Regions from separate parts of the Homo sapiens genome. Here region 1 is linked to region 2. Evidence: fine-mapped expression QTL. A gene starts in region 2. The other region holds a variant in brackets. All regions are shown on one strand. Distances are between the middles of the regions.

Region 1 (8,338 bases), 21 kb after region 2:
GGGGTTTCACCATGTTGGTCAGGCTGGTCTTGAACTCCTGACCTTGTGATCCACCAGCCTTGGCCTCCCAAAGTGCTGGGATTACAGGCATGAGCCACTGGGTCCAGCCCAAATAGTAATTCCTTTACAAAAGATATTCTGTGATTTGTTATAATCTTCTGGCATCAGTAGAATTTACCTTAATTAGTGGCTACATGCTATTGTTTTAATTTATAGCTGTATTTTATAAGCTCAGTTAAAAATGATTTTTCTGCCTATGCTCCTTGAGTAACCCATGGATAGATAAAATTTATTGATCAATAAAATTTAGCAAATAGACAGTATGCACAAGCCATTCCTGCCTTTTAGGTCTTTAGTAGATGTTGCTAATTGCCTGCATTATTTTCTTCATCTGTGTATTCATATATTCACTTATTCAGCAGCTGTTTTGGGAAAATCTGCTAATATCTTTGAGCCTGGTTCTAATCATTTCGAGCCAGTTTTATAGGAATTGGCACTTGTGCACATTTGCCATCCTAAGACCGTGTGTTTATGTGTGTGTGCGCCTGTGTGGTATTTCTCACAGGTTTGTGGATGGGGATAATACTCATCTCTTAGAATGAATTGGGTATCAGATCTTGTTTTTCTGTGATTTGGAACTGATTACATAATACAGAAAAATCTGTTTCTTGAGTATGTAGTAATATTGTTCAGTAAATTTGTTGAGGTCATAATATTTCTTGTGGTAGATGAGATTTTTTTAAATAACAGCTTTTCAGTTTCCTTTGCCTTCATCATTATTTTCATGTTATCTACATTTTCTCTTGCCAGTTAATATTTTGTGTTGTCCATTTGGCTAAGCATTTCAAGTTGATTATCATAAATTTTGCATTGCAATCATTTATATTTTAAAATCTTTTGTATCGGTTGTTAAATCACTAGCCTTGTTTTTAATTTTGTTGATTTATACCTTTTCTTTTATTTATTGTATTTCCAAGGGATTGATCTATCTTATAATCTTCTCACAGAATGAGCATCTAAATTTATGTATTATTTCCACTGATTTCCTCTTTTCTAGTTTATTTCTGTCCTTACTCTTTATTATTATCTATTTTCCTTTATATTGACTGTCTTCATAAGATTTTAAGTCAAATGTTTATTTCATATTTCTAAAATAAAAGCACATAGATTTACGCCTTAACTTCTGGGCTCTGATTTATACAAAGCCCCCTCCCTTTTGATATGGGGTGTTTTCAATTTTATAAACATCTCAAAAGTTGTTATCATGTTCTTAATTATCTACTTCACTGGTCCCTAACATTTTTGGCACCAGGGACCAGTTTTGTGGGAGACAGTTTTTCCATGAATGGGGGTGGATGCGTGATGGTTTCAGAATGATTTGAGCATATTGCATTTATTGTGTACTTTATTTCCATTATTATTACATTGTTAATATATAATGAAATAATGATATAACTATAATCTACTCACCGTAATGTAGAATAAGTGGGAGGCCTGAGATTGTTTGCCTGAAACTAGATGGTCCTGTTTGGGGGTGATGGGAGACAGTGACAGATCATCAGGCATTAGATTCTCATAAGGACCATGCAATCTAGATTCCTCACAGGCACAGTTCACAATAGGGTTTGTGGTCCTATGAGAATCTAATGCCACTGCTGATCTGACAGGAGGCGGAGTTTAGTGTGAATGTGACTGATGCGTAGCGACTGTAAATACAGATAAAGCTCTGCTGCTCACCTCCTGCTGTGTGGCCAGGTTCCTAACAGGCCACACACTGGTACTGGGGGTTGGAGACCCCTGTTCTACTTGAACTTGTAGTTTAGGAAAGTTTTTGTGGTTGTTAGACATTGATACCCATTAATTTGTTGCTGCTGTAATTTTTTATTAATATTTTAATATAATTTTAAACTTACAGAAATGTTAAAAGACTAGTATGAACTCCTATACACCCTTTACCTAGGTGCACTGTTGGTTTGTATTTTTCCCTAGTTATCATTCACTCTGTCTTTATGGATATGTGAATGTTTTTCTGAACAATTTGAGAGTAAGCTGCATACATACATATATATCTAAATACTTCAATATATATTTCTGGACACAAATATTTTCTTTTATAAAATTCAAGAAATTTAACAGTAAAATCAGGAAATTTCATGATACCATATGATTAATCCCACCATCCACATTCAAATTGTCAGTTATCCCAATATTGTGTTTTTTAATATATATAAAACATATATTAAAAACATATATATAAAACATATATAAATATAAAATATATGTGTGTTTTATATATGTGTGTGCGTATACGTGTATATATGTAGAAAGACAGAAATTGAGGGTATTTTAGAATTTACAATGACAGACAAGAAACTGAGATGGCTGTATGCCTACCGCAACCACCATCTGTAGGCCACCCAAGAGTAAATATTTATTTTCTTCTTGTACTCTGTTTTTCAGAAGTTCATGTTTATTTTCAAATTTACTATTTTTTATTATTCACATACTATATATTCATAGTAGAAAAGATAAAGCAATATAACAAAAATTGGCAGAAATATCAGTGCACAGAGATAACCACTGTTAGTATTTAGATGAATATTTTATAGACTTTTGCTTTCAATCGACAAAAACTCTAGATACTTTTTCTAGTTAAATATGAGTACATTAAAAATGGAGTTATATTGTACGGCTTACGGTTTTAACTCTCTTTTAAGTCTTAGTTTATTTGACATACTTATAGGTAATCTTCATAACAACTTTGCAAGGTAGAGCCTCATTTTTAGATGAGGAATCCAAGGTTCAGAGAGGTTCAGTAAACTGCCCAGGTCACACTGCAGTAAGGAATGTAGTTTATAATCTAAACCCCGAACTGTTTGCTGCAAAGGCTCTTGGTTAGATTATTCTTTTGCCCAAGGCTCCTTTCATTGCTTTTACTTATTCACATTTAGCTTTATTGCATGTGGTGAGAAAATATGTATATTTTTTCCTCTTGATTCAATTTTTAGGGCCTTATTTGAGAGTTAGTATATATGTACCAATGCCCCCATATGGAAAAAAATGTGTAATCTATGTTGGTATTGAGTTCAGTGTATGTCTATTGGTTCTAACTTATCAATTGTATAACATAACCTCTATTGTCTATTTTTGTCACGTCTTCAATGTCTTCTAAATTTTTGTCTATTTAAATTTGTCTTTATTTTTTACTCTTGTCTATTTTTTTCTTAGCCTTGAAATGAATTAAACTCTCCCTTTACAATTGCTTGTTTTTTATTCTATTTCTCTTTGCATTTCTGACTTTAGTAACCTCTGTCTTCACAGTTGATTTTCTATTTTTTATCATAATCAGGAGCTTCTTTGTATCCTCTCCCTGTGTTTTTGGCTTCAAAATCTCTTTTATATGCTATCAACTTTACCAACTATTTTCTTTTTGTCGTATGAGTTTCCTCATTAAACCTTTTTATTTTAGCATTTCTGCATTTTTTGGGTAACAGATTCCTATTTTTAAGCAACATACGTATTGTTGGGTCTTATGTTTTAATCCAATATGAGAATTTGTCTTTTTAGAAATCAATGGCCTAAGGCCGGGCGCGGTGGCTCACGCCTGTAATCCCAGCACTTTGGGAGGCCGAGGTGGGCGGATCACAATGTCAGGAGATCAAGACCATCCTGGCTAACACGATAAAACCCCGTCTCTACTAAAAATACAAAAAATTAGCCGGGCCTGGTGGCGGGTGCCTGTAGTCCCAGCTACTCGGGAGGCTGAGGCAGGAGAATGGCGTGAACCCGGGAGGTGGAGCTGTGGCAGTGAGCCGAGATGTTGCCACTGCACTCCAGCCTGGGTGACAGAGTGAGACTCCGTCTCAAAAAAAAAAAAAAAGAAATCAATGGCCTAAATATATAAAGTTCTTTGGGGAGAAGCTAGTGTATTGATATGAGATGGGCTCCCAGCTACTAGCTGTGGACTTTCTACAAGTTCCTTAAATACCCTGTGAGGAAGCTACTTACAGGCGTCTTTATCTGTAAAATAATGTTAATAAGCACACCAACGTGATAGAGTTGCTTCGAAGATTAAATGAGATCAAGAGCAATCAGAAATAGAAGCATATTAAAGCATATTAAACTGATTATTTGTAAAATGCAATTGTCAATATTTGCTATGATAGACATTATGTCTGGAAATACC[A/T]TCCAAAGCAAGTTTCTTGGCAGTTAGAAAGCAAGTTGGTTAAACGATGATCTATGCTCAAAATGGGGATAATCAGTTCTATACTTTTCTCCAACCATATTTTAAATTTTTCTTTGAGATAATGGGAATAACTTACAAGAAAAACTGCTGAGAAGCAGTGGTCCAAAGCCTTTTTAGAAGCTCTCAGGGTTCAGTTCAAGTTGTCCATCTCCATTTCTGGCTGCACCTGGAGCTTCACAGCTTGACTTAAATTCGGCCATGTCAGGAATCACTCACTGCCTTGCTTTCCATTTAGTTAATTAAGTGCTTAGGTTTACAAATAAGTTATTTGCTCTCATGACGGGTATGGAAGCTGCAGGCTTTGCTGTGCCTTGGCAATTCTCATCAGGCGTGGAAAAACTGAAACTAAGAAAAACCAACCAAGCGATGATAGATTTTCCACTTCCTGGATTGTGTGACTTGCTCATCCAATGAAAGGCAATGAGGGTGGGGTGGGGGGCAACCAGAGATGAGGACTGATTCTCAGCTTGTTGTTCTCCTCAGCAGTCCTCCAGCCCCTGTACAGCTGGAACCTCTGCATCAGTGAAAGCTGCTAGGAATTCAAAGTGCGTTCACATTCACTTCTGCTCCTCAGGATCAGAGGCAGTGAGGAAAGCTAAAAAAAAGTCTGAGGTTTAAATTGGAACCCATTTTTAACTTTTCAAATGTTCTTGGTATTTTAAGATCCAGAAAACCTTAAATCAGACAATTCTATATTACCAAACTGAAGAATAGTCTATAATATCATAATCTGATATGCTCCAGACTGACCTGATTTATTTTTACTTGTATGAACTTCAAATCTGATGGCTTTTATTTGATCCCTCAGAGGATGCTGTAGGTCCATTTCCCATCTGATGCAATAGAGGTGTCTTTTTTTTTTTTTTTTTTTTAAACTTCTCTGATAATAATCATCATCTGGTGTCTTGTTACACAAATGTTTCTAAGTTCCTCCCTAGAGATTCTGCTTCAGTGGGTCTGGGATGGGGCCTCAGATTTGTGGTCTCTTTTTCTGTTTGTTTGTTTGTTTTTTTGAGACAGAGTCTCACTCTGTCATCCAGGCTGGAGTGCAGTGGCGCGATCTTGGCTTACTGCAACCTCCACCTCCTAGGTTCAAGTGATTTTCCTGCCTCAGCCTCCTGCTTAGCTGGGACTACAGACACACACCACCACACCCGGCTAATTTTTGTATTTTTAGTAGAGACGGTGTTCTACCATGTTGGCCAGGCTGGCCTCAAACTCCTCATCTCAAGTGATCCACCCACCTCGGCCTCCCAAAGTGCTGAGATTACAGGCATGAGCCATCGTGCCCAGCCGGATTTGTGTTCTTAACATTAGCTTGGGCAACAGTGGAGTAGACTGAGGGGATAGATTCTACTTTTACAATTAGAAAGCCTTGGGCTCAAGTCCTGGGTCTTTCACTTGCTCGTTATGTGGTCTTGCACAAATTACTTAATCTTCCTCAATCTCATCTGAAAAACAACTGGAGATAAAAATATCTAAAAGTGTTGTCAAGAGGATTAAAATAACTAACACCCTTGATAGCATCCACTTTTCTCAGTATTGCTAAATCATTTCTACCCAGGTTAATTTGAAGATTATCTGTGAATTTATTTAGCATGCAGGCATAATGTTTTTTACTTATTTTCCTTGTTTATTTGGTGTATATTTGTGAAGCTTTTGCTGTGTGCCAGACACTGCGATTTTTAGAACACACTGAGCACTCCCTGATGGTATCACCTGCTCACATGGTCCATCTCAGGTTGTGTTTTCGTTTTTGTTTTTTGAGACAGAGTCTTGCTCTGTCTCCCAGGCTAGTGTGCAGTGGTGCGATCTTGGCTCACTGCAACCTCCACCTCCCAGGTTCAAGCAGTTCTCCTGCCTCAGGCTCCCAGGTAGCTGGGACTACAGGCATGCACCATGATGCCTGGCTAATTTCTGTATTTTTGGTAGAGATGGGGTTTCACCATGTTTGCCAGGCTGGTCTCGAACTCCTGATCTCAAGTGATATGCCCGCCTCAGCCTCCCAAAGTACTGAGATTACAGGCATGAGCCACTGTGCCCCATCCATCTCAGGTTTTTGAAAGTACTACCCAGCTTTCTTGTGTGAAAGAAAGCAGGCCCCTAGTTATTCATGGAGCTTCTTGGATTAGGAAGGCCATGTCCTTATTCCTCCTTTGTACCAGAAATTCAATTTTTCTTGAATCTAATCGTGTATTTTTTTCAAAAGAAAATATATATAAAATTATTCGATTTGATTTTACACAGAATATGTTCCAGGTACTTTGCATTAAGTGAATTGTCTCTTTTTGGACAGAAAAACCTTTGTACTTTTCCCCCTCCCCTCATAATAGCAAGAATCCAATGGATTTTTGATGATTATGCCTATGTTTTCCTTATATTTAGTTTTGCTTCAAAAGAATTTAAAGCACTTTTAAAAGATAAAAACAATGCAAGACATTAAGAGGAAAATTAAGTAGGAAAAAAGGATGGGAAAAATATAGTGAATTGATAAATGAAATTACACTTCAAATATATGTTGTACAGTCTTTTATACTTCCCAGTGATGGGCCAGATATTTGGCTCTGAACTCTCTAGCTCTCATTGCAAACCCTCTGCAGACAAAAGATGGAGGTGATGATTCTCAAGCCATGTAGATGATTATTGGGATCATCATCTATATGAGTCTTGAACTTTGTTTTAACTTTTCCACTGGCCCAAGACTTTGGGTCCTAATCAACATTAGGGTCATTAAGAGTTTACAGAAGGGTCATGAGTACCATGGAAAACTATGTGCTCGCCAATCTTCCAGCCAAACACAAAATAGATCAGGGAATAAGGAGGCCTCCTGCTGCAGAGGAGATGATAGCCAGGTGGGAGAGCTGGGCCAAGGATCAGCCAATTTTCTGGTACAGAAAGTGTAACCATGGCAACAGTAGTGAAGGTAGCTCTAGTTCCATCAGCAATGACACCCTTAAGAGGTACCGGCAGAGAGAGAAGCCTGTTGTACATCTGGGCAAGGGTCTCGGTGAGGGAAGTTCATGTAATTTTTAAGCATAATCGTTGGGAGAAAATAAACAGCCTCTTTCATGTTAACCTTGCAAACTCAAATAGACAAAGTGAAGGCCAATGACTGGCGGTACTGCCTGGCTGAGGCTGGATGTGACTGCCTTGCCTGGGAACCTGTAGCCTGCCTCAGGTTTGCCTTTTATTCTCTTTACTTTCTAGTAACAGTGCTCACAGGACTTTCAATAAGCAAAGCCCAGAGGGGGAGAGTTGCTTTTGAAGCCACACTCTTGTCTGCCTCATTCATTTCAAACAGAGACACTTCTGAAAGAGACGAAGGCCTGTGTACAAACAACAATGCCCACTGCATTCTGTTGCCTTCAGCTGTGATGTGGTGGCTTTTGATTCTACACAGAAGGTCCTTGTTTCAGACACTGATTGATGGGTCTTCTGAATGGAGGAGGCAGCAAGAACAAATGAGCAAGGCCCCTGGTAAGGCCAGGTGCTTCAAGAGGATGGGCTGGAAAGTGCTTAAAATAAAAGGTAAACACAAGCCTCCACAACAGCAAAAAATACCAAGGCACTGAGTTCTGAGTGGTTGATAATTGGTAGTTCCTAAGGATTTCCACATGTTTGTGCAAACACATATAAGCTCCTTGGAGAACTCTGACCTGGAATTTCAGACTTTTTGGTGGAGGAACCAAAAGTTAAACCCAAATAGATGTCATAAAACAGGTAAAAGTAATTGAAATAAAGAGCACTGGAGGTCTGAGTCTGGTTTGAGGCAGTGAAACAGAAAATAATGCAGTGAAAGAACAGGTGATGGGGCATCTCCGTCTCAGAGAGGGTTGTGATTTTTCACCAGAAACCCATGGAAAGCCACATAAAGGCTCATTCTAAACACAATGGACAGTGTTAGGACCTGCTGTGAGGAAGCTGTATGAGATGTGCCTCCCTTCTCCATCAACCCTTGTCCTTCCGTTTTGCCTAACAGAAACAAACCAGTGAAAAATCCACATGAGAAATCTGGCTATACTCAGTACTTTTGCAAGAAAACACTATGAAACTCCCTGTGAGTCTGCATTCTTCATAGTCCGTGGGGGAGCG
Region 2 (8,338 bases):
AAAGACAAATACATTTTAACTTTAAGATATTCAAATGCAGTAAAAATATTTTTCGTATGAGTCCAAATTTTTACCTATCAAACAAGATGTTACAACTCATTGTTCACAATCTGTTTTGTTGCTTTAAATTTTAAACACATATGAGAAGCTTACAGGGGTCACCTAGGATGAGAGAATTGAAATAATTCAAGTTCTGGTTTTTTGTTTGTACAACCACTACGCTATCATTTTTTGTTTCAAATCTACTGTTTACATGCAGAAGCAGGTAATAAGTGCCACTGAGGTTGGAGACATAAGGACGTCAAAGGATCTGAACCATCGCACACTTACTCTTGCAACAAGAACACGCCCCTGAGTCTGTGCATGTTGGGGCCAAGTGCATAACCGGGAGTTCTCCAGATTAATGTCAATGTAGAACACAATATTTATGAAAGGATAAATAATAAAGATGTGATGAATTTGAAGCTTACATATACTTACTACATAAAATCCAACAGTAACCACGGAGATTGTTTAGAACTTAGGCCATAAAACCATTTTTTTCTGGAAAGAGCTTTGCCTTTATCGCTGATACTCTTTCTTTTGGGATGGAGTTTCACTTTGTTGCCCAGGATGGAGTGCGACGGCGCCATCTCGGCTCATTGCAACCTCTGCCTCCCGGGTTCAAGCAATTCTCCTGCCTCAGCGTACCAAGTAGCTGGGATTACAGGTGCCCATGACCAAGCCTGGCTAATGTTTTGTATTTTTAGTAGAGATGGCATTTTACCATGTTGGCCAGGCTGGTTTTGAACTCCTAACCTCAGGTGATCCACCCACCTCGGCCTCCCAAAGTGCTGGGATTACAGGCGTGAGCCACGGCGCCCGGCTGACATTCTTTATAATTGTGATAATGACAGGCAGATCAGCTTTTGGTTATATTTGTATTTAAATTCTCCACAGACGGTTGCTCTTTTATTGATGGCACATCCCCCCTCCACCCAGTCCCATGGCCCCCTATTCCCTCCCCACCCCACTCCCACCCCATTTGACTGTAAATTCCTGCAAGGTGGGGACGGCTGTGCAGCCCCCTGTTGTACAGTGCCCACTGCACAAGCGCAGTGGTTTGCAGGCCAAGGCCCCAGGGAGATCGCCTTAGGATGTCCTCCCTTTTCCTCTATGGGAGGCCAGATTTTCTTCCTACATTTCAAACAAAGCAATACATCACAACAGACTGAGTACAGAAACAGGTAAGATAATCCAGCTGTCTTGGGAAGCCAGATATTAGAGAGATTTGCAACATTTCTTTGTAAAACAATGTCACTCTTCTCCATTTAAAACTTATTTGGAAAATACAAGTTATTTTTCATAAAATTACATTATATGTGTTAATATGCAAGGGTTTATTATCATTTTAAAAAGTGTTAGCAGATTTTAAAGATTTCTCAGTTTTAATTTCTAATGAAGGAAATATTGATATCTCACATAATAAACACTGTTTGGGGTCCTCAGTGATTTTTAAGAGAGGAAACGTGTGAACAGAGTGTGTGAGTTGTACTCAGGCACTGCGTTACGTATGGCAGGTGCTCATGTATGCTTGTGACACTCATGAGGGACTGACTGAATAGGTAGCTTTCAGCTGCTCCTAGGATTTGCAAGCTGAGGCTGGGGTGGAGGGGAGGGAGAAGGTGCCTGTTGATAGTGGGCCCAGTACCGGGAAGGTGGGACTTGCCAGGGTCTAGGAGCAGCGTTGGCTCTCATGGCAACACCGACTGGGGAACCTGGGTCTCAGGCATTGGGGCTGGGCATAAGTGTGATGTGCCATGTGGGCTTCAAGCAGCTCACGCTATCCAGTCCCCCTTAGTGCTGAAGGGCAGGAACAACTGTCTAAATCTCCCTCTCTGTGAGAGGAACTGAGCAGAATGTTTTTCTAGAAACCTCTGGCTGTCAAATCACTGGGTGTGGGCTCGACACAGAGCACTGCGGCCTCAGTAGACAGATTGAGGCTGCAGGTACCTCTCCCTGCTCTGCCCTGACCAGCTATGCGACCGCCGGCAAGGCACTTAACTGCCAGCTTACTCAACCATATGGTGAGGATGAGATAAAATGTCCGTGGAGTGCCTGGCACATGCTGGGTGTGCAGCACATTAGTGACTCCATTAGTAAGATGTCATTAATAATAAATACTCAAAAGAAGTAGGCTGGGAGGAGGGGCTAAAGAGGAAGGGTCCTTGAGGGAGTACTTCCTGGTGCTCGATGAGTGACAGTTGAAGCTTGGCATAGATCATGGTTTCTCAGCCTCTGCACTAATAATGTTTTGGGCCAGACAATTCATTGTTGTGAGGGCTGTCCTGTGCATTGTAGGATGTGAAGCAGCTTCCCTGGCCTCTACCCACTAGATGCTGGAAGGGAAGCACTCTCTCCCTGGTCTTAACAACCAAAAACCAAAAATGTCTCCAGACATTGCCAAGTGTCCCCTGGAGGGCAAAATTGCCCCTGTTGAGAACCATTGGTGTAGAAACTTTCCTGACAAGGGCTCCACCACAGGACACCGGCTTCCCTGCGGTTTCCCCAGAAAGACATCATACCAGCCACATGCACACAGATTGGGCTCACTCATTGCAGAAAGAATTCTGCCAAGAGATTCTGCTTCCAAGAGAACAAGAGGCCTCCTGACTTGGATCCTCTTTTCTGAGGAACCCTCTTGCTAATAGTGGCCACTTCTCTCAGCATTTGCACAAACTAGGCCCCGGGGAAAGAAGCAGGCTGATCAGGACAATGAGATTGCTCAAGGAAAATCTGGACAATACCCAGAAGCCTGGGGGAGGCCATCCCTCCCTTCAACCTCTATCTCAGCACTGACAGCTTCCAATTCCCATGGCTCCATTGCAAAAACAGTCCTGGCCAATCCACAGTAGAATGGATAAAGGAAGTGTGGCATGGTCCCGCAGTGGAATGCTACAGCAGTGAGAATGAATGAGCCTCAACTCCACGAAACTGCATGGTTGACTTTCACAAACATAATGTCGAACGAAAGAAGCCAGACGCAAAAGAGCAACTGATGTGTTTCTATTAATGAAAAATCTCCCCAAAGGAAAAAATCATATATGTTAAGGCTCAAGGGGCACACAAGGAAGGCTTTGGGGTACTGGTTCAGTTTGTGAGAACTCATTGAGGATTTATGATAGAGGCCCTTTTCTAGAAGTGTGTTATAAACTTCATTAAAAAGTAAACAAACAAATACAACATTCCGGGGCAAAGGGCAGGAAAGGCCCTTTAGCAAAATCACTATGAACCAAGGGAATAAAGATTACCAGCAATTTTACCTGTATGGCTCTAAATTATTATGTAAGGGTCATTTTTGGATGTGGCTTTATAAATGAGATGATGTGTCAAAAATAATTAGTATAGTGCTTGGCACAGAAAATACTTAGTGAATGGCAATAATTAATACTGCTACTCAGTTATTAACTGGCCTATGAAGTAAAATAGTCAAATACAAAGGAACAGCCTTTTTCTTAAAGGGGAAAAAAGCTTCTGAAATTTTTAGGTACATCCCGTTAGGGAATTTCTAATTCTCAAAGTTGTCGGAGCTCTCTCCAAGGCTAGTCTTAGAGAAAAGAAAAATCTCAGACTCTACCTTAGCGTTACTAGCTCCTGACCAGTAACCAGTACCAAAACAAATTCCCAAACACCTGTCTAGTCTGGCCAAATTGTTCAATTAACTGATCCGTCATTTATTGGTCCACTGCTTAGCCTGGAAGCTGGGCTCCACTCTACTACCTTCCTGATAAGGCATTTGATCTGTCTTTCGCCATCAATCTAGTTTGTGAATTTACAAACAAAACAGGCAGGACGGCTGTTGGATTCTTCAGCCTCAGACTAAAATTTTGGCAGCAAAACAAAGTCTAGAAATTGTGCAATGATATCTCTACTTTAGACCTGACTGGAAATAGAACTCTCATAAATTCCCCTCTCTTCTGAGAGAGGCAGGCAATTAGACAACCCCAACCCGACAGAGCATTTCATTGCAAGCCTGGCTCCCCGGTTGCAAATTAGATGCCACATTAACTCTCAGGAAGATCTGAATCGCTTTCATATCATTTGCCGCTGAATAACTTTTAGCATGACTGTTTCCATATCAGATACGCAAGAGACTTCACTGCTAGCTGCAGGCACTCTTAGAAGACTTTTAATCCGAGGATGATTTTCTAAAATTTCATTTCTGTTTACAAACGGCTACGTGTCCCTGTGAACCTGTGAGGTCGTGTATAGAACCACCTGGCACGCTCTGAAGCAAGCTCTGTCCCATACAGTCAGAAACCCCTGGATTCTTTGTGACACACGTTTTAAAAAGAAAAGTTCATGCCCATCTCTGGAGAAAAGTCAGGCTCTTACCTGGTTTCAGGCTTTGTCCAAGGGCACTTGATTGGATAAAGATGCATAAAACCAACAGAATGGAGAAACACAGGGGACTTGTGTCCATTTCTCCGTTTCACCCGGGGTCCAGGCTTTCTTGGTAATTTCTGAAGCCAAAGAGACCACAATGCCTATTAGATACTTTGTTAGGGAAGACTGCCCATTAATAATTAACCTCTCAACATGTTATCCACTGTTCAGACCCTTTCTTTACTGCCCCCAACTGCAAATCTAATTATATCTATTTTAAAAAGGTCGATTTACAGAAGTGCTTCTTATCCTGACACATTTTGAGAATAAAATACCTTGTTATGTATTCTTACCTTTTGGGGCCAAGGTCAGAGTTCCAAATTAATCAACTTAAAGCTACTGTGTTGTGTTTGGAAATTCTGCCAAAGGTCGGGGTAGGTGGCTTCCACGTGGCTGCCTAAGCCTCCCTGTGACAGCGCTGCAAGGGGGATGCTGGCTCAGGAAAGTGGTGTTTCAAATTGCAGCCTAAGCCCAAAGAAAAAGAAAAGGGCCCTGCCACGCAGAGAGCCCCCAGAGGGTCCAAATTTCTGTTGGGTTCAGTGAAATTGGTGATGCTTGTGGTCAAAGTGTGGTGCAGAAAACCCTTCACCCCCGTGTCAAAAGGAGCTGACGAAGAAGCAAAGATGCCCTTGCCAAGTGACCCATTGAGAGGTGATCCTAGAGTAAACACACTTCTTCCCCCTCTGTGTTCATTAATGTTCCAGCTGTGTAGAGGACTGAAAAGTAAGGCCACTCAGCAAAATCAGGTAGGGAAAAGGCGACCATAGATGGCTTTTGTGATATTTTTGGACCTCTAGTTTTACTTTAACTTTCTTCATTTGTTCAACATTTATATATTTTGGTATGCCTACTAGGTGCCAAGCACTGTTGCAGGCACGTGGGGTATACAAGTCCTTATGTATCAGTGGAGGTTCTTACCTTCTGGAGTTGGATAACGGACAGTAGACATAATAAAGAAGAGATTTCTGGCCAGGAGCGGTGGCTCACTCCTGTAATCACAGCACTTTGGGAGGCGAGGAGGGCGGATCACGAGGTCAGGAGTTCGAGACCAGCCTGACCAACATGGTGAAACCCCATCTGTACTAAAAATACAAAAGTTAGCTGGGCGTGGAGGTGAGTGCCTGTAATCCCAGCTACTCAGGAAGCTGAGGCAGGAGAATCGCTTGAACCTGGGAGGCGGAGGTTGCAGTGAACTGAGATCGCGCCATTGTACTCCAGCCTGGGCGACACAGAGAGACTCCGTCTCAAAAAAAAAAAAAAAAAAATTAGGTAGACTGGTAGAATGTAATGGGAACCACTACAAGAAAAGCAGGGGGTTGGGGAGAAGGTAGGGATTTTAAGCAGAGTGGTTAGAGTGAATTGCATTGGGAAGTTAAACTTTCAGCAAAGGTTTGAAGGAAGTGAAGGAGTTGCCCCTGTGGACGTCTTGGGGAGGAGAGCTTCGGGCAGTCTGTGCAAAGGCCCTGAGGTAGGAGTATGCCTGGTGTGCTCCAGGAATAGCAAGGAGGCCAATGAATGGGGAGACATTGTAAGGACTTTGACTTTTATGCATTGACACATGGGGGGCGACTCTGAGCAGAAGGGTGATATGATTTGTATTATAGTTTTAAAATATCACTCTGGTTTGCAAGTGAGCCAGGGTGCAGTGGGGAGATCTGTTAGAAGGCTATTACAGTGGCCCAGTGAGAGGTGATGGTGGCGTGGCCCAGCATGGTAAAGGGCAACTGCGGAGTGGTGGATGGGTGGTGGATATATTTTGAAGGTAGAGCCCACAGGATTTTCTGACTGCTGAGTTGTGAGATGTGGGAGAAAGAGAGGAGTTAAGGATGACTTCCAGGTTTTTTGGCTTGAACAAGCAGATTAATGGGGTTGCTGTCAGCTGAGAAGGGGAAGCTGTGAGTGAAGCAGGTCTGTTGGGGGAAGATTAGAGATTCAGCCTTGGCCACGTGGGGCTTTGAGATGGCTCTTAGACATCCAAGTGGAAACGTTAAGCGGGCAAAATTAGATAACATGGTAATTATTGCCTGGACGAGCCTCATTCAAAGGGCCTTCTGAAGCCACCACCAGACTTGGACGATCTTGACCCAGTCTAAAGCTGTGTTCTGTCCTATGACTGTACCTTCCTCCCAAGCCCCGAAGCTTGCGGACCATCCCGTCAGATATACAATTTCTTTTTCTTTTTCTTTTTTTTTTTTGAGATGGAATCTTGCTCTGTCGCCCAGGCTGGAGTGCAGTGGCGCGATCTCGGTTCACTGCAACTTCCACCTCCCAGGTTCAAGCGATTCTAGTGCTTCAGCCTTCAGAGTAGGTGGGACTACAGGTGCCCACCACCATGCCTGGCTAATTTTTGTATTTTTAGTAGAGACGGGGTTTTACCATGTTGGTCAGGCTGGTCTCTAACTCCTGACCTTGTGATCCACCCACCTCGGCCTCCCAAAGTGCTGGGATTACAGGCGTGAGTCACCGTGCCCATCAGATATACAATTTCTGAGCAAGGACTTCTGCCTTGGATACTTGGCTGGCTCCTGCACAGTTAAGCAGAATCTGAAAGTTCCACTTTTTTTCCTATAAAGCTGGCACGTAAGACCAGCTGGCTACCCATCTCGGGCTCCTCTCCCCTGTGCCCACCCTCATCTCCTCTCCTCTGGGTACTGCCAGTAACCACCGCCACTCCCCATTTTATTCGGGACACAAACTCATCAAAAGACACCAGTGAATCCAAGTGCCTCTGAAATACCAACCGTGTGCCCCCACCCGCCCCCCAAATTTCTGCAGAGTACACTTTCTTACCACTTTCTACGTGGTAAGAACACTTTCAACATGGGAAGAAGCCTTCAAGATTGTTTCTAGCTCTTGTAGTTCCTTTACTTGCACCACCCCAAATTCCTCTAACATCATCTCATGCCAACTCAAATTCTATAAGGCTCTCCTGGAAAATGACAAGGAGGAGTGGGTACCTGTCCCCTTTCAGGGTGTTGTCTGCTTTCACCTCTACCTAAGCTCTTCCAGCCTGCCCCATCACCGGGTCTGACCTTCCAGTGGTGGTTTTAATGCACAAGCTCTGTTGTGTTTTCTTGAAGCTGACCAGGGAGGCTACTGGCAGGGAAGAGGGGAGGACTTCACAGAGTATGAGATTTCCTGAACTGGGGGGGTCCTAGGCCTATCTACTTGCTGTATATAATATTATATAACCTTAATGAGTTCAATCTCCTCACCTATAAAATGGGGACAACATGTATCTGAGATAATATTTTGAGATATCAACTTATTTTTCTCCCAAACTGTCTCCCTTCCACTTAAGAGGGGCAAAGTAGAGAGAAGGCTACAAATCTTTTGTCTTCCAAAAATATAGGACCTTAGGGCAAGTGAATTTTATTTTATTTTATATTATTTTATTTTATTTATTTTAGAGACAGGGTCTTCCTATGTTGCCCAGGCTGGCCATAAACTCCTGGGCTCAAGTGATCCTCCTGCCTTGGCCTCCCAAAGTGTGGGCAGGTGAATTCTAGCCAACAAAGAAAAGCAAAAGACTAACATTTCTTGAGGGGATGTGAAGGGAGAAGGAACCCCTCACCTTGCCATCACTAGAAAGACATTCTCTTGGGCTTTGCAGGTGGTGTGGAAGGGGGAGGTTTGTCTATGGGTCTGAGAGCAGAGGGGACAGTACCTTGCTTCCCAGAAATCCTGCTGGAAGAGAAGAACCCAGGGAGGAAATGGCTGTGTTGGCACATGGGCAAAAGATATACCTGGCTTGATGTAGGGTGGGAGAGCAGTGAGTCTCTGGGGCCAGCAGGTCATGTTGATGGGAGGATGGGCCCCTCAGTGGCCACCAATGTGGACTGATGACAGAGGACTAGGTCACACTCCCCTGACCCCATGCCTGGCTATTGTATTTGTCCAGAACTATGGCATA

What was found. PIP is the estimated chance that this variant, and not a neighbour inherited with it, causes the effect.
Region 1: its variant is fine-mapped to the expression of LIPC in whole blood (INTERVAL, PIP above 0.99).

What each region holds. Positions count from the first base shown.
Region 1 is chr15:58,406,803-58,415,140 of GRCh38, reverse strand. No RefSeq gene overlaps it. Among named protein-coding and RNA genes, the nearest start is that of LIPC, 21 kb to the left of the region's middle. RefSeq lists a silencer at 4,377-4,671. The variant A/T (reference allele first, on the strand shown) is at 4,187.
Region 2 is chr15:58,428,157-58,436,494 of GRCh38, reverse strand. LIPC (lipase C, hepatic type) reads right to left here and starts at 4,504. Exons shown (of 9, transcript NM_000236.3): 1 at 4,375-4,504. The coding sequence starts at 4,462. LIPC-AS1 (LIPC antisense RNA 1) reads left to right here. Exons shown (of 3, transcript NR_120338.1): 3 at 1-1,594. RefSeq lists a silencer at 6,191-6,485 and an enhancer at 6,191-6,485.